3 linked regions of the Homo sapiens genome follow. The protein of the gene in region 2 purifies or fractionates together with the protein of the main gene of each other region. This does not show direct contact. Each region holds a gene or a part of one and is shown on either strand. Other genes may lie near its edges.

Region 1 (7,028 bases), on a different chromosome or scaffold from region 2:
CAAATTATTATCCTAGTACAGTATTATAGTTTGTCCCTAAAACACTCTAGGGCTAAACAATGGGAAAGAGGTTGTTCCTTCCACAACCGAAAAGAAAAAGGAAAAAACAAACAAAAAAACAAAAAACTAATATATTCAAAATATATTCAAGGGCTGCAAACACTCTAGTGAAATTTGGGCTCCCCAAGCAAATACTTCAATAGCTTCTTCTCATGCTCTTTGTAAGCTGAATATTGAAAGGAATGTGAACAAAGTATGAATATAATCTCCCACAAAATGGAAGAAGAAATGAAAATTGGTCAGCAGCATTTAAAAACCATGGTATTCTATTACAATTTGAGAGCTAGCAAATCAAGGATAGACATCTATAATACAGAGTATAGCAAGCAGTTAAAGTTCAAGTAACAACTTTTAAAGATTTTCAGTAACAAATATGGACAGACTAAAATTGCATCTGTATACGTAACTGCTGACGGTTTTAAGAATATCCCAAGACACTGGACATTTTATTCCTACTTCCTTGCTACTTAGAAGCTAATATAAATAGCCACCATAATACTACACAACTCTCTAAAAGGTGGCAGAAGTGAAGTACAGATACCGGGGATATAAATTCCTAATGAGGTTTTAGCTGACAGAATGTTACCATAAAGAGCATAATAGGTTAAATACTCAAAATTACATGAAAAGTTATAGCCTTATCTTGATCCTGCAAACTGGCCTATGCTCTAGCCACTCCAAAAGTACAAAAAGAAAAGAAAACCAGAAACAAAACCAACTTTATCTAAAATCTTCATGTGTAGCATAGAAGAGACAGGGGGACAAAGTATAAGTGTGTTTACATTTAGAAGGTGGGATGTGATAAGCCCCAAGTTTTCTTATAATACTAAAATCCCCAAAATCTTGAAGGGAAAATAAAAAATGTTTTTAAACTCATACAACTATGTTTTCCAGTTAATTGCACTTCTTAATTACCATTTATAACCTTTATCCACCTTCTTTACACAGTGATCCCTCGGTATGGATGGGGGATTTATTCTAGGCCTCCCTATGAACACTAAAATCCACGAATGCTCAAGTCCCTTGTATAAAATGGCCCAATATTTGCATGTAACCTATGTACATTCTCCCATATGCTCTAAATAATCTCTACATTATTTATAATACTAATACAGTGTAAATACGATATGAATTAGACTGAATTATTTAGAAAATGACAAGAAAAAAAAAGCCTGTACATATTCAATACAGATACAACCATCCATTTCCCCGCCTCCAAATACTTTCAATCTGTGGTTGCTTGAATCCAATGAATGTGGAACCCAGGGATACAGAGGGCCAATGTACTAATGATCCTGGGCTACTGAAACAATCAGAATAAGGCCCATTTGTCCAATTCTTGTCTCCTTAATTACGTTTTCCCATGTAAAAATAAATGACACTCAAGTACGTTATTTTTAGTCACCAATATTAATGTATAAAGGAGAAAAATTAAAGGTTATAAAATATTAATGTAAAGATATCAAAAAGCTACAGAGAAGAATAACAAGAATTCTCCAAGTATCCAGTAATTTGTAGGGAGAAAAGGTCCATAATTCCTGAAGAATGTATGTGTGGCTGTTTTCTAAGTGAATTTCTTTCAATAAACTAAAAAAGAATAAGAATTTATTTATATGTTGGTATGCCATATACATTTATAAACAATACAAGTGCAAAACGGATACTATTAAAATACTGCCTATATAAACTGTGGACTCATTTCATCACCATTTCATTATATGCAATAGTTTATTTACCTTGATGCTTCTTTAATGACATTTTGTAAAAATATTAGTCTTGTTTGTAAACTGCCTTGCACATGCTTCAGTAAAGTGAAGATTCTTTCATATTCTTAAAGCAAAAGAAACAAAAAGAAAAATTAAGTGCCTTTCATTTGTATTCTTATTCAATATTCTTCTTTTGCAGTTTATGATATTAAGATATACTGAGATAAAAACATTCTACATAAAAATTTCACCACTCATTAGAGATTTTATATTTTAACATATATGTAAAAGTAAGTACACAGCAACAAAGATAAAACAACTAATCAAACCCTGCTTTGTAAGTAAAAGTTCCTATTAAGGTATCAAACATAAAGCTTAAAAGGATGAGTAAATAGCTTTATGGTAGTATCACTAAAAAATAAGAACAAGTGGCCTTTACAAAACTCCATCCTTACAGTTTAAAATTCTAACAGCTAACATGGGGGTAACTGGGAAGTGGGGGTAAAAACCAGACAGGTTAAGAGTGTTATTTCAGTTTAAAGTTTTCATATGAAACTCTGCAAGGGCTATAAACGTCTGAACTCCAAGGACTGATTTGTTCCCATTTCTGGACCACCCAGGTCATTCTACTACCCCAGGGCAAGTGATCTGTTAACATCCTCTAAATGAATGCCAATAATACTGAACTTTTTCCCACGAAGTTCTTTTGTGTTCATATACCAGAGAGCTTTCATAACTTTAGTTTTTTGGCCTAAACATATCCTATAATATCACAGTTTAACTACTAAACATAGTGGTAGGCACTATGACAAGAACTTTACAGACATGAAGTCATTTAATTTTCACTATATCTCTTGTGAGCTAGCTGCTATATTAAAATTCCATCGTTGGTCAGAATATTCAAGACTATGGGTTCCTGTCAATTTATCTGTACAGTGTTGCTCTGCTCTCAGTCCCTGCTGCCTACCACCATACCTAGTACCTTGGAAATAGAAGATATTTGGTGTTGGTCAGATGAATAAAGGATCTTAACTGAGATGTTGTTCAAGACAGATCTAGAATCATATGTATTCTTTTACTACAGTTACTTGACTTTTTTTTTCTTTTTTGCTTTTTGAGCACATACAGAAATCAGATCTGAGGTTCGTCTCTTATTATACATACTTCTTCCTGGCTTTCGGATCTCTTTCATTATTTGTGCTTTTAGTTCAGTATTGACCTCTTCATGGCTTCTGCAATGCATCAATTTCTTTCCTTTGTTGAGTGAAGATGCTGGTATGTTCTCTTCAGCACATTGTTCTTTATCTCTTGGCTCCTCATGATTTTCTAAAAATCCACCAACAGTGAGGTCATTGGTTCCTAAATGGTCATGACCAAGAGCCTCCATATGATTGGTTGGCCGTTCCAGTAAACTGGCTGGAGAAGATGCTGAAAATTCCGTATCCATAGCATTTGGTGTAATGTCTGATGAAAGTTGGTCTGCAACATGATTTTCAACCACATCATGTATTATCGAATCATTAGTGGTTTCTGAAACTAAAAACAAAGATACGGGGAAAAAATTATGGGATCCAGTCTCAAAGCATACAGTAAATAAAGCTACAAAAGAACATTACTACAGCAAGTCAACTGTTTTCCTTGACTAATGCAAGTTAACAAATAATGTGATATAGTTTTTAAGCATTGCCAAAGATACGGTAGATTTCAATGTGACACATACACAGTATTTACAAAATATTTACAATTTTTACCCTTGGAGGAAAAAATAAAGCCAATTTCAAGTAGTTTTTAGTTTTCTGGTTTATTCTATAGCAATTTTATTGAAACAAGTAGGTTCTTGATACTTCAATGAAATATCTATGATCAAAATTATCACGGTCATCTATCTCTACCTTAGAGAGCCCTAACTCACACATATGCCTTATACATCTGGTATCATTTAGAGGCAAAAGTAAACACTGGGTAGTTTTTACTTTCCACTTATATTTCTGCCTTTAACTGTTCCAAATTCTGCAGGGAACATACCACCAAACAGGTAATGTTTTACAGTATACCTTCTAACTAGAGAATCTAGTCATCATTTATTTACCAGTGCAGAGCAACCTGGTGCCCACTTCAGCTTATTAGACTACTAAAACTGAAAGCTCGCAAGCCTTCCTCTTAACACCAGATTATTAGACTTGCCCCACAGAAAGCAGCTGAATTTTAAGTTCTCTGATTGCTCACCAACCTCCAGGATCCCAGCTGAATTCATCTCTACTGTCCTCATTTCCTGTCCAAACTATAAACTTAGTTTACCCATATTCCCCTATACACTCATCACAAATCCCCCAAATTCCTGACTCTCTCCTAAATTCGATTCCATGATTTGCAAACTCCTCTTTACTGAATATTCTCTACAACAACTTATGCTTTAACTGAAACCCAGCTCTCCTGTATGGAGACTGCTCTCCTTTCCAGACCAAAAGTAGAAATTGCTTTCTCTTGCACAATCTCCATAGGCATAAAAGGACATGGAGTCACTGATTCCTTCACTTCCTAGTGCTATTGCAAAATTACTCCCTTGCACTCTTGTGAGACTCAACCATGCCATTCACGCTGTCTCTCCTTATCACTATCTTAGGCCAATCTCCAGGGTACAAGCCTGTAAGCCACTGTTGTCTCTGGCACCCAGTTCATAGCCTTCCTTCTGTTGTGCTGAGCCCCTATCAACTCCAGTGGGGATGGCACCAAGTTCAAGAAGCCAAAGAAGAGACCCAGAGCCAGCAAACAAGACAAGGCGTTTTGTTGGGGGCTACATAAAGGGGAGCAAGCCCAGTGGTGGCAAGCTAGGCAGGAGAAGCACCTTACATACAGTCCAATGGTGGTGGGCTGGACAGGATAACTGCACGGCCCAGTGGCAGCAGGCTGGGCAGAAAAATGGCAACTGCTTGCAAAAAGTATACAGTTTATATCGTATTTTCACTTAGCACTCTTCCCCCTAACAACCTCCACCTGGCAACCTTCATTTAACCCAAAACAAAGGGCCTCAATCCCCTGTCTGGCCTGCATTCACTTCACAATGGGTTAGGGGCACAGATGTTCCTTATAGATAGGGAATGGATCTTTGGGTTAGCCACCCTATTCCCTAGCTCAGAACTCCCAACCGCATGCAGGTGTTGTCTGCAAGCAGGGTCATTCTCAAGGTATGCTTCAGTTATTGCTATCAAGCACATCTGCCATGCACATTCCACCCCCAAAGCCCTTCTGACTTCATTCTTGGTTCTTACTACTACTCGAAGTCTGGTGTGTGGACAAGCAGCAGTACCACCAACAGAGAGCTTGCTAGAAATGCTCATCTGCCTCAGACTGAATAAATGAGAATCTGTAGTTTAACTAGACCTCCCAGGTGATTCACATGCATATTCAAGTCTGAGAAGTGCTGTGGTGACTTCAGTGTTTAAGCAGATCACCTGTTAAGAACCTGGCCTCCCCATTCCCCAGCTTCTCTCTAAAGAACTTACACTTACACCTTCGCCTTTCACATCCAGACAAATTCAGAGATGGAGGAGTATCATCTTCACAGTACTCCCGCTACTGCTCCTTAACTCAGCCAGACTTTGACTCTAGCAATTCCTCTACTTTCTTCCTCCTATTAACCATATCCCTTCTAAGTAGCCAATTCTGTATCAGGCTTATATCCCTGTAAGTAAAAGTGATATATCACTTTTACTAATGTCTGAATTTCTCTTATTCTACTGTCTTCCCATAACATCTGCCAAGCAAAATCCCATCTCTTGACTCACTATCTGCTTGCCCCAGACTTGCATTTGGAATCATGAGCGCTGCTGGAGAAATAGGGCCCAGCTCTACAGAGTGGTCACAATCACCATCTCTACTTGGATCCCAGGCACTGTCTAGCAACCTTATCACAATCTTTTCTCTCTCTCTCCCACAGAGATTGTTAAACTCCCTCACTCTCTTCAAACCTCTGACTTTCCCAATATCCCCTTCCGTCTCAGCAGTATACTTCACCTTCTACCTCACAGAGCTCGGAAGAAAAGCAAAGCCATGATTAAGGGACTTCCTTTACCTTCCTCTAACTAAATTGCACACACCCTCGCCCCACTTCCCCCACATTCAGTGTCAATGGAGGGAGCATTCTTTCATCTATGCTCTAGACCATTCCCTCTTGCGTTCTCAGTAATTTTGTGCTGAGTATGCCTTTTCTCATTTTTATTTTCAACCTCTCCCTCTTTACTGGTTCCACCACCAGCACTGAAACATGCTCAAGCATCTCTGATATTAAAAACAAAGAAAAATCACCATTTTCAAAACCCTGTGAACTCTTCCAGATACCATGCTCTTTTCCCATCTTCCTTTTACAACTAAACTTAACTGGTCGTTTATACTCATAGCCATTGTTTCCATTTTCTCACCTCTCACTCCTCCCATAACCCCTTGTTAGGCTCTGCCCCTTTACTCCACAGAAACTGCTCTTGCTAAGATCGCCAAAGACCACAGAATCTTTCCATTTCTCTTGATTGAACAGTTTTTTTTTTTTTTTTAAAGTATTTGGGACAACTACCCACTCAATTATCTTGCCCTTTAGCTTCCATGACATTAAATTCTCCCCTATTTTCTCCTAGCTCTAAAATTCTTCCTTCTCAATCTCCTTTTCTGCTTTCTCCTCTTAACTTTGGCACTTTCAAGGTTCTGTTCTGAGCGTTTTTTCTTCTTTTTGCCTTGGTGAGATTTTATTCAGTGCAATAGGCAGTAACCTGCCTCTCATACTACCCCTCTAGCCCAATCCTCTTCTCCTGAGCCCAAACTCAATATTCATCTTCTAACTTAGGATCTCCACTTGATGACCTAATATGCACTTCTAAACTAAACTCATTTATCATTTCTTCTTCCACCCACCCAGTGTCTCTCAAGACATACGTCTGACTCCTCCCCTGCTCTGGTCCCAACATCTGACCAGTAACCAAGTCCTTCAGTGGTATGTCCAGGTATTTCTCAAATACATATTCTTCTTGAAACCCCACTGTCAGGTCAGCAGCATCTGTTCCCCGGGTTTCCCAACTGATTCCTGTGCATGCACAATTATTTAATAACATCAAATATACAGTCAGTGTCCATACTCTCCAACATGTTTTCTGTTTGTGGAAAAGTTTGATTTTGTTTGATTCTGAGTACAGTTAAGGCCTATACATTGCAACTGGCTTATATATCTCTTAAACTACATTTGAATCTGTAAAATCCTTCCGTACCCCTTTTATT
Region 2 (7,028 bases):
CTATCCCATCTTTGCCACTCTAGTAAAAACATTTAAGAAACCACTTGAAGAGACTGTTACTGAGAAACTCTCTATCTTTCTCACACTACTATCCATATAACTGTCCGAATGTAGAGTTATGCTATTAACACATTACTTTCAGTATTCCATAATTATCATTGGCCATGTCTATATACAAGTGTATTTCAAAAGTGTTACTATTCTTGTTAAACCATTTGAAATTACATATTTCCACTTATCATGGTTTAATTTTAATCTAATTTCACCAAGCCAATGTTTTACATCCCAAACATCAGGAGATGTGCTGTGCATTATACAAAACTTTGGGCTGAATCAGTTGTTTCTAGCCTAAGAGTCTGGCTGATTATATAACTTGGCTGCACTAGATTCAAAGGAAGAACTTAAAAAATAAAAATAAAACCTACTCCTGGTTATTTTGATTCGGCAGGTATGAGGTAGGACAAGGAATTGTTTAAGTGGCCCAAGGGATTCTTCTAAGTAGCAAATATAAGAAATAATGAATTAGATGAATTTTAAAGCCCTTTTCAGCTCCCTGTGATTCAAAAACTCAAATCTGAATTGCAAAATCTCACATATCAGGCAGCCATTTAGGGAGCTATATTTCACTTAGAGTCTTACCTGATATACCTGAAATTATACCCTATTGGTAATCACTAACTTTGACAGCCAGCCTTTTAACATAATGATGCTACCTGAAAACCAGAACTATCAAAAATAGCCAAGGAACATAAAGCTAAATATCTAGATTTATTTTCAATTTTTTTGATACCTTGATCATGAATCAAACTGAACCAAGTTGTCAAAAATGATTGTATAAATACTATAAAGTTCTTTAAAAAAATTTCAACAACCAATTTAATATTGATTGTAGGTCAAATTTAGTTTCTGACTAATAAAATACCTTTAGTTAATTTTATTTTCCAGAAAGCCTATTAAGATATGATACTTAGTTGCCTCACATCTATCCAAAATATTATAAATAAGTATGTAAAAATACAAAAGAGAACAAAAGACATACATAGCTTTAATGCTTTCAGTGAGGTTTGTTTCAAAGGAGAGGAACTGTTTTCCTCTTTTTGTGAAGCCTCTAATCTCAGATGCTGCAGCAATAAAAATTTTCTCCTGAGGTGTGTTGATAACCCCTCCCAGTTCCAGCCTTGCAATCTTCGGCCCGGGTAAAGTCTTGAACACTGCCTGAAAAAAATCATTCAGGAAAAAAGTACACAAATTACTTTATTGTGAGCATTTTTTCCTTTACAATAGAAAATGTTATGATGTTAAATTTGCAAAATATTATAGTTCCACTATATAGAAATAATTTTAGATAATAATCTATATACTTCAGCAGGTCTTCAGGTTTTTTGCTATACTTAACTTTTAAATATATATTCCCACACATATTTGAATGATGTCATTGAAATCTAAATCCTTGTAATTCAAAGTACAGTTCACTAAGCAGCAATGTTAGCATCACTAAATTTATTTAAAATGCAGCAGATCAACTGAATGAGAATCTGTATTTTAACAAGATTCCCCAGCTGGTTCCTATGCCTACTGAAGTTTTAGAGGCATTGGATTAACAATACTCCTACGAACAGGGAAGTCCATTTGGCAAATTCTTTAATGAGGTCCAATGAACATGTTTTTACACTTCAATCATCTTTTAAAACTAATCTTTCCTGGCTTCTTTACAATTTTTATAAATTTTAATAGTTAAAGGACTATAGAATTTACTGAAAATGTGAATGTATGACTTAATACCTATAATCATATATCTATTTAACTGAAAACAATATTCATTTCATTAATTTTTTTGTGGTTATTTTCCATTTTATTATTTGCACCAGCTTCTTCTCCTCCACTTCCTCCCCATGACTTTATATACAGAGAATAAGATATCTGGGAGAATATGAATAATGGAAACACTGAGTTTCTGGTAGTTTTTATTCTCTTCATCTTTCTGGAAATTCCATATAATATATAATGAATACTAGAATTCACATCTCAGACTCATCATTCTAAGTTTCTAATTATGATCTGTAAATATGATAATGTAATAGTAATAACTTCCTTGATTAGGTTAAATTAAGTGGAAAAGGTTGTGGGTTAGTTGCTTCCATGATTACATTATGCTACATAAGATTCTTTCTTAGCAGACTACAGAAATTTCCTGCTGGCTTTGATGAATTAGATTACCATGTTGTGAGAAGGACTGTAAGAGAACCACAGAGCAAGAAATTGCAGAGACCTCAAGGAATTGAGAGCAGCCCCTGGTTTACAGATGTTAATAAAGTGGGGACCTCAGTCCTATAATAGCAAGGAACTGAATTCTGCAAACAACCACATGAGCTTGGAATAAGACCCCACACTCTAGAAAGGAACACAGCTCAGCTGACATCTAAATTGCAGCTGTGTGAAACCTTGAGCACAAACTCCTGTGCTACAGAAACTGTTAGATAATAAATGTGTGTTGTGTTAAGGCCCTAAATTTGGGGTAATATATTACACAGCATAGAAAAGTAACCCACGACCACAGGATGCCAAAGGTGCCTTACAACTAGCTAGCAAATTACTTTTGTGCTACCCGCAGACTCATATCTCACATAACTACTTACCTCAGAACCCATTTTCCATTACCTGTATTTTAGGAAATTTTTAACCTAGTATTATTCAATAAATAGTGCATTCTCTTTTAGAAAACCATTTTTCCCCTTCACAAAGCTATACTTACTGCTGCTTCTCCTTTCTTCATGCCAAAGCACATAACTACCCCATCATGATCTCCAATAACCACCTGTAATAGATGGAAGATAATCTAAAATTACTATTATTAATATTATGACCTAATAATTATATACAGGGAAAGCAAGATTCTTAATTTATAAATACTGACTTAATAGAGATCAGAAAATCTAGGAAAGACACCCCCACAAAAAATAATCCTCAAAAGAACAAGAGCCAAAAGAGAAGGATATGGAGAGTCATTAGAAAAGTAATTGGCCATAGATTTTGTTCCTATAATGTTAATAGGACAACACAATATATTTTGTTTTGCTTTTTTTCAACTTTTATTGTAGGTTCTGGGAGTCCACATGCAGGTTGTTACGAAGGTATACTGCCAGACAACAGTTATGGACAGAAATGCCTACAAAGTAATTTTTTTTTCATAACTGGAGCATAAGAACATTTTAAGATTAACTTTTAAAACAGATTATCAAATAAAGTTGTGACTGACATATTTAATAATTTTAAACACCTTTTTTAAAAGAAAAATTTTAATGTATGAAAATGTACACAAAATATTATAATGAATTATCATGTGCCTATCACCTAGTTTCAACAATTACCAACATGTAGACAATGAATTGTTTTGAAATAAATATAGAGGGACATTTTAACACTTCTTCCTCAAAAGTAGATATCAAACAACCTTAGACCAGTTCCAGTACGTGGCCTGCTGGGTACCAGGCCACACAGCAGGAGGTGAGCAGCGGGAAAGTGATCATTTACAGACTGAGCTCCGCCTCCCGTCAGATCAGCAGCGTCATTAGATTCTCATAGAAGCACAAACCCTATTGTGAACTGCGCATGGTTGTATGCTCCTTATGAGAATCTAACTAATGCCTGATGATCTGAGGTAGAACACAGTTTCATCCCAAAACAATCCCAGCCCCATTGGTGGAAAAACTGTCTTCCACGAAACTGGTTCCTGGTGCTAAAAAACTCTGGGAGCTCTGATTTAAGAAACTACTACTTATCAAGTTTAGGCATAGTATCAAACAGAGAGTCACAATCATCTGAAAAAGCTATTTAAATACCCCTCCTTATTTCCAGCTATGTATCTGTGTAAGCTGGATTTTCTTCAAATATTTCAGCCAAAACAACATAGCACAGCAGATTGAATGCAGTAAACAAATATGAAAATCTATGTGTGTATGCTTATGCCAGGACATTAAACAAGTTGCAAAAAGTATAACATAATGACACTATACTCACTAAATTCTTTGTTTTGAAAAATAGTTATTTTTCATAAAGACATGTTATGTAAACATGTAATAATTTTTTTAAAATAAAATAGTTTAAGCATTTCTTAGTTTTCATTTTAATATAGTAAGTATTGATACATACAACTTACATAAACAAATGTTCTTTGGGATCCTCAATCATTTAATTGTGTAAAGGGGTGCTGAGACCAAAAATTTTGAGAAGTGCTAATCTAGTAGACTTAATACAGTAAATGACAATCAGAAATCTGTTGGTTTATCTTTTTTATTTTATTCATTTATTTTTTAATTGACAACAATTGTACATATTCGTGGGGTACATAGCAATGTTTCAATACATATAACATATACTGATCACACTGGGATAATTAGCATATCCATCATCTAAAATACTGATCATTTCTCTGGGTTAGGATCAGTCAATACCTTCTTTTTAGCTATTTGAAACTATATATTGTTAACTATAGTCATCCTATAGTGGTATAGACTACTTGAGTTTTTTCTTCCTATCTAGCTATAATTTTATATCCTTTAATAAATATCTCCCTATCCCTCCCTTCCCTCTACCCTTTGCAGCCTCTAGTATTCTCTGTCCTACTTTTTACTTTAACGTGACCAACTTTTTTTAGCTTCCACATATTAATGAGAACATGTGGTGTTCAACTTTCTGTTCCTGGCTTATTTCACTAAACATAATGTCCTCCAGTTCCATCCATGTTACTGCAAATGATAGGATTTCATTCTTCTCTCTCTTTTTTTTTTTTTTGAGACAGAGTTTTGCCCTTGTCGGCCAGGCTGGAGTGCAAAGGTGCCATCTCAGCTCACTGCAACCTCTGCCTCCTGGGTTCAAGCGATTCTCCCATGTCAGCCCCCCAAGTAGCTGGAATTACAGATGCCTGCCATCGTGCCTGGCTAATTTTTGTATTTTTAGTACAGATGGGGTTTCACCATGTTGGCCAGGCTGGTCTCCAACTGCTGACCTCAGGTGATCCGCCCGCCTCAGCCTCCCAAAGTGCTGGGATTACAGGCGTGAGTCACCATGCCTGGCCAGGATTTCATTATTTTTTATTGCTGAATAGTATTCCATTGTGTATATATACCACTTTTTTTTATACATTCATCTGTTGTTAAACACCCAGGCTGATTCCATATCTTGGCTATTGTGAACAGTGCTGCAATAAAACATGAGGCTGCAGTTGTCTCTTTGATATGATGATTTCCTTTCCTTTGGGTAAATTCCCAGCAGTGGGGTTGCTAAATCATATGGTCGCCCTATTTGTAGTTTTTGAAAAATCCTACATACTGTTCACTATAGTGGATGTACTATCCCACCAATGGCACAGAAGAGTTTCCTTTCTCCACATTCTTGCCAGTATTTGTTGTTTTTTGGTTTTTTGTTTTCTTGTCTTTTTGATAACAGCCATTCTAACTGGGGTAAGATGATACTTCATTGTGGTTTGATTTGCCATTTTCCTGATGATTAATGATGTTAAGTATTTTTTCATGTTTTTTTGGTCATTTGTATGTATTCTTCTGAGAAATGTTTAGATCATTTGCCCACTTTTTAATCAGATTGCTTGTTTGTTTGCTATTGGTATGTTTGAGTTCCTTGTATATTCTGGATATTAATTCCTTGTTGGATGAGTAGTTTGCAAATATTTTAAATCCCATTCTATAGATTGTCTTTTCACTCTTGTTGATTGTTTCCTTTCCTGTGTAGAAGCTTTTTGGTTTGATATGATCCCACTTGTTTATTTTTGCTTTTGTTGTTTGTGTTTTTGAGGTCTTATTCATTAACTATTTTCCCAGACCAATGTCCTAAAGCATTAACATTTAGGTCTTTTTTTGTTTTTTGTTTTGTTTTGTTTTGTTTTTTTGAGATGGAGTCTTCCTCTCCTGAGTAGCTGGGATTACAGGTGCCTGCCACAATGACAAGCTAATTTTTTTGTATTTCTAGTAGAGATAGGGTTTCACCATGTTGGCCAGGCTGGTCTTGAACTCCTGACCTCAAGTGATCCACTCGCCTTGGCCTCCCAAACTGCAGGGATTACAAGTGTGAGCCACCACACCTGGCCACATTTAGGTCTCTGATCCATTTTGTGTTCATTTTTATATGGGGTGAGAGGTGGGGGTCTTGGTTTCATCCTTCTGCATATGAATATTCAGTTTTCCCAGCACCATTTATTGAAGAGGCTGTCCTTTCCCCAGGGGCTGTTCTTGGCTCTTTTGTCAAAAATCAGTTGGTTGTAGATATGTGGATTAATTTCTGAGTTCTCTATTCCATTTTATGTTCTCTGTGTCTCTGTGTTTTTATGCCAGTATTATGCTGTTTTGGTTACTACAGCTTTGTAGTATATTTTGAGATCTGGTAGTGTAATGCCCCAGCTTTGTTCCTTTTACTCAGGATTGTTTTGGCTATTTGGGGTCTTTGTGGTTCCATACAAATTTTAAGATTTTTTTTCTCTTCCTGTGAAAAATGACATTGGTATTTCGATAGAGATTGCATTGAATCTGTAGATTGCTTTGGGTTGTATTGTTATTTTAACAAAATTAATTCTTCCAATCCATGAACATGGGATGTTTTTCCATTTGTTGGTATCCTCTTTAATTTCTTTCATCAGTGTTTTATAGTTTTTTTTATAGAGGTCTTTCATTTCCTTGGTTAATTTATTCCTAAGTATTTTATCTTTTATCTATTATAATTGGGATTGTGTTCTTGATTTCTTTTTCAGCTAGTTTGTTGTGTATAGAAACACTACTAATTTCAGTATATTAATTTTGTATCCTGCAACTTTACTGAATTCATTTGTCAGTTCTAAGAGTTTTTTGGTAGAGTCTTTAGGTTTTTCTATATATAGGATCATGTCATCGGCAAACAGAGATAATTTGACTCTCCTTTCCAATCTGGATGCACTTTATTTCTTTTTCTTGTATAATTGCTCTGGCTAGGACTTCTAGTACTATGTGTAATTGTTGATTCATCTTGCTAAAATGTTTATATAT
Region 3 (7,028 bases), on a different chromosome or scaffold from region 2:
AATGTGCAAAAGTCACAAGCATTCCTATACACCAATAATAGACAAACAGAAAGCCAAATCATGAGCAAGCTCCCATTCATAATTGCTACAAAGAGAATAGAATACCTAGGAATACAACTTACAAGGGATGTGAAGGACCTCTTCAAGGAGAACTACAAACCACTGCTCAACGAAATAAAAGAGGACACAAACAAATGGAAAAACATTCCATGCTCATGGATAGGAAGAATCAATATCATGAAAATGGCCATACTGCCCAAAGAAATTTATAGATTCAATGCTATCCCCATCAAGCTGCCACTGACTTTCTTCACAGAATTAGAAAAAACTACTTTAAAGTTCATAAGGAACCAAAAAAGAGCCCATATAGCCAAGACAATCCTAAGCAAAAAGAACAAAGCTGGAGGCATCACACTACCTGAGTTCAAACTATACTACAAGGCTACAGTAACCAAAACAGGATGGTACTGGTACCAAAACAGATATATAGACCAACGGAACAGAACAAAGGCCTCAGAAATAATGCCACACATCTACAACCATCTGATCTTTGACAAACCTGACAAAAACAAGCAATGGGGAAAGAATTCCCTACTTAATAAATGGTGTTGGGAAAACTGGCTAGCCATATGCAGAAAACTGAAACCGGGCCCCTTCCTTACACCTTATACAAAAATTAACTGAAGATGGATTAAAGACTTAAATGTAAACCTAAAACCATAAAAACCCTAGAAGAAAACCTAGGCAATACCATTCAGGACATAGGCATGGGCAAAGACTTCATGACTAAAACACCAAAAGCAATGGCAACAAAAGCCAAAATTGACAAATGGATCTGATTAAACCAAAGAGCTTCTGCACAGCAAAAGAAACTATCATCAGAGTGAACAGGTAACCTACAGAATGGGAGAAAATCTTTGTAATCTATCCATCTGACAAAGGGCTAATATCCAGAATCTACAAGGAACTTACACAAATTTACAAGAAAAAAACAAACAACCCCATCAAAAAGTGGGCGAAGGATATAAACAGACACTTCTTAAAAGAAGACATTTACGCGGCCCACAAACATATGAAAAAAAGCTCATCATCACTGGTCATTAGAGAAATGCAAATCAAAAGCACAATGATACACTATCTCACACCAGTTAGAATGGCAATCATTAAAAAGTCAGGAACCAACAGATGCTGGAGAGGATGTGGAGAAATAGGAACACTTTAATCTGTTGGAGGGAGTGTAAATTAGTTCAACCATTGTGGAAGACAGTGTGGTGATTCCTCAAGGATCTAGAACCAGAAATACCATTTGACCCAGCAATCCCATTACTGGGTATATACCCAAAGGATTATAAATCATTCTACTATAAAGACACATGCACATGTATGTTTATTGCAGCACTATTCACAATAGCAAAGACTTGGAACCAACCCAAATGCCCATCAATGATAGACGCATAAAGAAAATGTGGCACATATACACCATGGAATACTATGCAGCCATAAAAAAGGATAAGTTCATGTCCTTTGGAGGGACATGGATGAAGCTGGAAACCATCATTCTCAGCAAACTAACACAGGAACAGAAAACCAAACACTGCATGTTCTCACTTATAAGTGGAAGTTGAACAATGAGAACACATGGACACAGGGATGGGAACATCACACACCCGGGCCTGTTGGGGGGTGGGGGGCTAGGGGAGGGATTGCATTAGGAGAAATACCTAAGGTAGATGATGGGTTGATAAGTGCAGCAGCCACCATGGCATGTGTATACCTATGTAACAAACCTGCACGTTCTGCACATGTATCCCAGAACTTAAAGAATAATAATAATAATAAATAAAAAATTAGCTAGGCATGGTGGCGCTTGCCTGTAATCCCAGCTACTCGGGAGGCTGAGTGGGAGAATCACTTGAACCCGGGAAGTGGAGGTTGCAGTGAGCCAAGATCACTTTGCCTGGGTGGCAGAGTGAGACTCCATCTCAAGACAAACAAACAAACAACACACACACACACACACACACACACACACACACACACACACCCCTGAACTATTATACAAGCTGATTGGCAATGTTTTTGGGAAAACATCTTGATCAAATGAGGGAAATGTGAGTTGTCAGTATCAAAATGGAGTCACTTGGCCAGGCGTGGTGGCTCATGCCTGTAATCCCAACACTTTGGGAGGTCGAGGTGGGTGGATCACAAGGTCAGCAGTTTGAGACCAGCCTGGCCAATATGGTGAAACCCCGTCTCTACGAAAAATACAAAAAAATTAGCCAGGTGTAGTGGCACATGCCTGTAATCCCAGCTACTCAGGAGGCTGAGGCAGGAGAATTGCTTGAATCCGGGAGGTGGAGGTTGCAGTGACCCGAGATCGTGCCACTGCACTCCAGCCTGGGTGACAGAGCGAGACTCGTCTCAAAAAAAAAAAAAAAACCTTGACAAATAGAGCTAGGGAAGGCCATGAAGGGAGGATTATTATGCACAAATGCCTGATAAGTACCACAAAAGGCTCTGCAAAAACCACAACCTTACAGAAAAAAATACTTCCATGAGGACATCTGCCCAGCAACTGCCTGCTCGACCTTGGACTGGAGCCACCCTTGTTATTAATCCTTGCAGATAACGATAATTATCTCAAAACAATTATGTAATCCTCCTCATTTTTCCTTTAAAAGCTTTTGCCTTCCTTTACCTCCCTGAATACACACATAGTTTATTATGGCTCACACACTCCGGTTGCAATGCCATTCCTGAATAAATATCACTTTCTTTTTAGAGAGTCGCTGTCTGTTATTTAGGTTGACATAAGCATGACAACTAAGAAATCATAAAGAAAAGGAGTGGTAGAATTGACTATATAAAAATGTAAAACTTCTGTAATTAAAAAAACAAAATCGAAAGTTGAAAGAAAATTGTAACATGTATGACAAGAGGCTATATTAGTTTCCTAGTAAAAATTACCAGAAACTAGGTGGATTTAAACAACAGAAATTTATCCCCTCACAGTCCTGGAGGCTAAAGGTTTGAAATCAAGGTGTCTACAGAGCCACGTTCTCTTGAAGGCTCCAGGGAAGAATCTGTTTCATGCCTTTTTCTTAGCTCCTGATGTCGCCAGCAGTCCTCGGTGTTCCTTGGCTTGCAGCTGCATAACTTCGGTTTCTGCTTCCACTGTCACATGGCGTTCTTCCCCTGTGTCTTCACATGTTCTTCTCATAAGGACAGTAGTCATGTTGGATTAAGGGTTCACTCTACTCGGCACAACCTCATCTTCACTGATTATATCTGCCAATGACCCTATTTCTAAATAAGGTCACAATCTGAGGTAGTGGGGGGTTAGAACTTCAGCACATCTTTTTAGGAGATACAGTTCCACCTATAACAATCTTTAATATATAAGTAGATTTAACAAATGAGTAAGAAATGTTGGCCGGGTGCGGTGGCTCATGCCTGTAATCCTAGCACTTTGGGAGGCCGAGGTGGGTGGATCACTTGAGGTCAGGAGTTTGAGACCAGCCTGACCAACATGGTAAAACCCTGTCTCTACTAAAAATATAAAATTAGCTGGGCATGGTGGCACATGCCTGTAATCCCAGCTGCTTGGGAGTCTGAGGCAGGAGAATCACTTGAGCCAGGTAGGTGGAGGTTGCAGTGAGCTGAGATTGCGCCATTGCACTCCAGCCTGGGCAACAAGAGTGAAACTCCCTCTCAAAAAAAAAAAAAAAAAAAGGAAAAAAAAAAAGAAACATTATAACACTGCAACAGAAAAATGGGCAAAGGACAAGCATAGGGAATTTGCACACATACCCTATGTGTTTCCAATAAACATAAGCAAGATGTCTGGCTGTACTGCATGTGAGCACACTCCTTTATCTCCAACCTCACTAGCTGCTCTTCCTCCCTTGGGACACTATGGTGTTCCCTTGGGCTAGGTTCTGGATGTTCTTCCTCTTGTCACCTCAACCTAGATGATTTTATCCAGGTCAATGACTTCACTATAACCTATGCGCTAACAAGACTAAATTTGTATCTCTAGTCAGGACTTTTCTTCAGAGCTCTAAACTCAGTACAAATGTTATACTTGGCATCTCCAGTTGGCTATTCCACAGGCATCGTTAAGTTTTATACCTTCAAAACAGAACTCTTGAATCTTTCCTCTAACCCTGTTCCTCCCAAGTCTGCTTCATTTCAATGCATGACACCAACATGCATTCAGTTGCTCAAGCCAGAACTCAGGGCATCCTTCTTCATTCCTTCCTTTCCCTTGTTATCCACATCCAAGTTATCAGGACCTGTTGATTTTATTTACTAAATATCTACATCCCTCCACTCTCCCAGTCTGTACCACCACTCCAGTCCAAGCTACAGTTATTTCTGACCTGGACTACTACAGCCAACCTTCTAACTGATCTCCCTAATTTCACTCTTCCCCTCTTACAGTAGGGTGACTACACTTCTGCTTTGTTTGGGACAGTTCCAGTTTTCACCTGTTGCTTGACATCCTGGTCCAGTTAGCATCCCTTTTCATTTGCAAAAGTTTCCCAATTGGATGATAAATTATATGGTCTCCCTACCTTACCATCTTTTCTTTTCACAGTAGCTAAAGTCATCTCTAAAAAATGTAAATCAAGGCTAGGTGCAGTGGCTCACGCCTGTAATCCCAGCACTTTGGGAGGCCGAGGCGGGTGGATCATGAGGTCAGGAGATCTAGACCATCCTGGCCAACATGGTGAAACCCCGTCTCTACTAAAATACAAAAAATTAGTCAAGCGTGGTGGTGTGCTTGTAGTCCCGGCTACTCGGGAGGCTGAGGTGGGGGAAATTGCTTGAACCTGGGAAGTGGGGGTTGCAGTGAGCCGAGATCGCACCACTGCACTACAGCCTGGGCAACGCAACAGAGCAAGACTCCATCTCCAAAAAAAAAAAAAGTAAATCAAATCATGTCACTGTCCTGCTTAAACCTTCAAAGATTTCTTACTGTATTACAATAAAATCCAAATCCCTTATTGTGGTCTCCAAAGCCCTATAACCTAACCTACCTACTTCTCATCTCTTCTGACTCTGTCCATCAGTCGTTACATTGCAGCCTCACTGGCTTTCCATTCTTCCAGTAAGTCATGCTCATTCCCGCCTCCAAACTTTTGGTTTTGTTGTTCCCTTTGACAATGCCTTATTCATCTAGATCTTATAACTAATTTGTTGTCATTTTAGTCTCAGGTCAAATATTAACTCTTCAGAGAGGCCTTCTCTGAAAACACAATCAAATGTTCCCAATCCCACCAAAGTTACTATTATACTGTTCTCTTATTTGTTAGTTTGTTTACTGCCTATCTTTCCACAGTAGAATGTAGTTCCATTATCATCTTGTTCACCTCTGGTCCCCAGGGTTACAGCATATGCTCAATAAATATTTATTGAATAAATGAATCATAATAAAAAAATAAAAAATAATGACATCTTATGGAATCTGGCTATCAAACAGCAAAGATTAAAAGAACAAAAATACCGTATTTTTTCCCCTAACACTCTGTATTATCACCTGACATTACATTTATAGTGTTGTTTACTATCTGTGTCCCCTCAGTAAAATGAAATCTCCATGACGGCAGGGACTTGGTTTTCATAGATGTATTCCCAGCACCTCTAAGAGTGCCTGGTATATAATAAGTGTTCAATAAATATTTATGGAATAATGTAACAATACCTAGGGGTGACTAGGCAGCAGAGAAAGAGATATGATTGGCCATATACCACTGGTAAGAATATTAATGCACAATTTCTGTAGGAAATTTGGCAATACAGTTGATTCATGAACAACACAGGTTTGAACTGCATGGGTCCACTTACAAGAGAGTTTTTTTCAATAAATATATTGGAAAATTTTTTGGCGATTTATAACAATTTGGAAAACTCACAGATGAACTCCACAGCCTATAAAAATTGAAAAAAACTAAGAAAAAGATATGTCCTGAATGCATAAAATATATGTAGATACTAGCCTATTTTATCCATTTACTACCATAAAATCAACACAAATCTATTATACAAAGTTAAACTTTATCAAAATTTATGCACACAATCACTTACTGACCATAGATGGTGACATCTGCAGTTGACAGAAATGTAAAGATGCAATATTAACTCACAACTGCATATTTTTAAATTCATTATTTTTTTCTTTTTAATTTGTATCACAACTGCATAAAATTTACCATAGACTACACTGTACTACCGTGATAATAATGTCCTACTACCACAGACATCTGCTGCTGCTGTGGTGGGCTCAAGTGTTGTGAGGATCCACTTAAAACGCCACGTGACACTAATCAATTTCTGCACTACTTCCCAGTAAACTGTGTATCACGGTAACAAGTGTTCTCTCCTGGGTTTTTTTCCACATATACTTGTTTAATCATGTGTAGGGTAATATCGTAAACCTTGAATAACACCATGAAACCCATACAAAGTGCTTAGTGATGCTGGATGTGCTCTCAAGAAACAGAGAAAAGTCATGACATAAGAAAAGCTGAATCGCTTGAGATGTACCGTAGATAGAGGTCTGCAGCTGTGGTTGTCCCCTATTTCAGACAGATGATTTATCTTGTAAACAGACGATGTAAACCTATGGTATTGACAAATGCAGTATAGTACTGTAAATGTATTTTATCTTCCTTATGATCTTAACATTTTTCTCTTGCTTACTTTATCGTAAGAGTCCATATAACATACAAAACATGAGTTAACTGCTTATGTTACTGGTAAGGCTTCCAGTCAACAGTAGGCCACTGGTAGTTAAGTTTTCGAGGAGTCAAATGTTACATGTAAATTTTCAACTGCACGGGGGGGTTAGCAACCCTAATCCCCGTGTTCTTCAAGGGTTAGCTACATATAAAGTAGGGCACACCTTTTGACTCAGCAATCTAACTTCTAAGAGGAACTTAATAAACAAATGAACAAGAGTACAAAGATTATGAGGGAATTTTTCACTGGGTTCTTAGAGAAAATTTAGAAACGAAGGCATAATA

Evidence for each region.
Region 1: the proteins of BBS7 (region 2) and INTS6 purify together in Homo sapiens (co-immunoprecipitation; 3 studies listed by BioGRID and IntAct, with this or other methods). This does not show direct contact.
Region 3: the proteins of BBS7 (region 2) and SIMC1 purify together in Homo sapiens (affinity purification with mass spectrometry; 2 studies listed by BioGRID and IntAct, with this or other methods). This does not show direct contact.

What each region holds. Positions count from the first base shown.
Region 1 is NC_000013.11:51,366,009-51,373,036, forward strand, and holds part of INTS6 (integrator complex subunit 6), read right to left. Parts: intron 3,303-7,028; coding exon 2,931-3,302; intron 1,891-2,930; coding exon 1,797-1,890; intron 1-1,796. UniProt on the Homo sapiens protein: Component of the integrator complex, a multiprotein complex that terminates RNA polymerase II (Pol II) transcription in the promoter-proximal region of genes.
Region 2 is NC_000004.12:121,860,465-121,867,492, forward strand, and holds part of BBS7 (BBSome complex member BBS7), read right to left. Parts: intron 2,816-7,028; coding exon 2,753-2,815; intron 1,216-2,752; coding exon 1,040-1,215; intron 1-1,039.
Region 3 is NC_000005.10:176,241,424-176,248,451, reverse strand, and holds part of SIMC1 (SUMO-interacting motif-containing protein 1), read right to left. Parts: intron 1-7,028.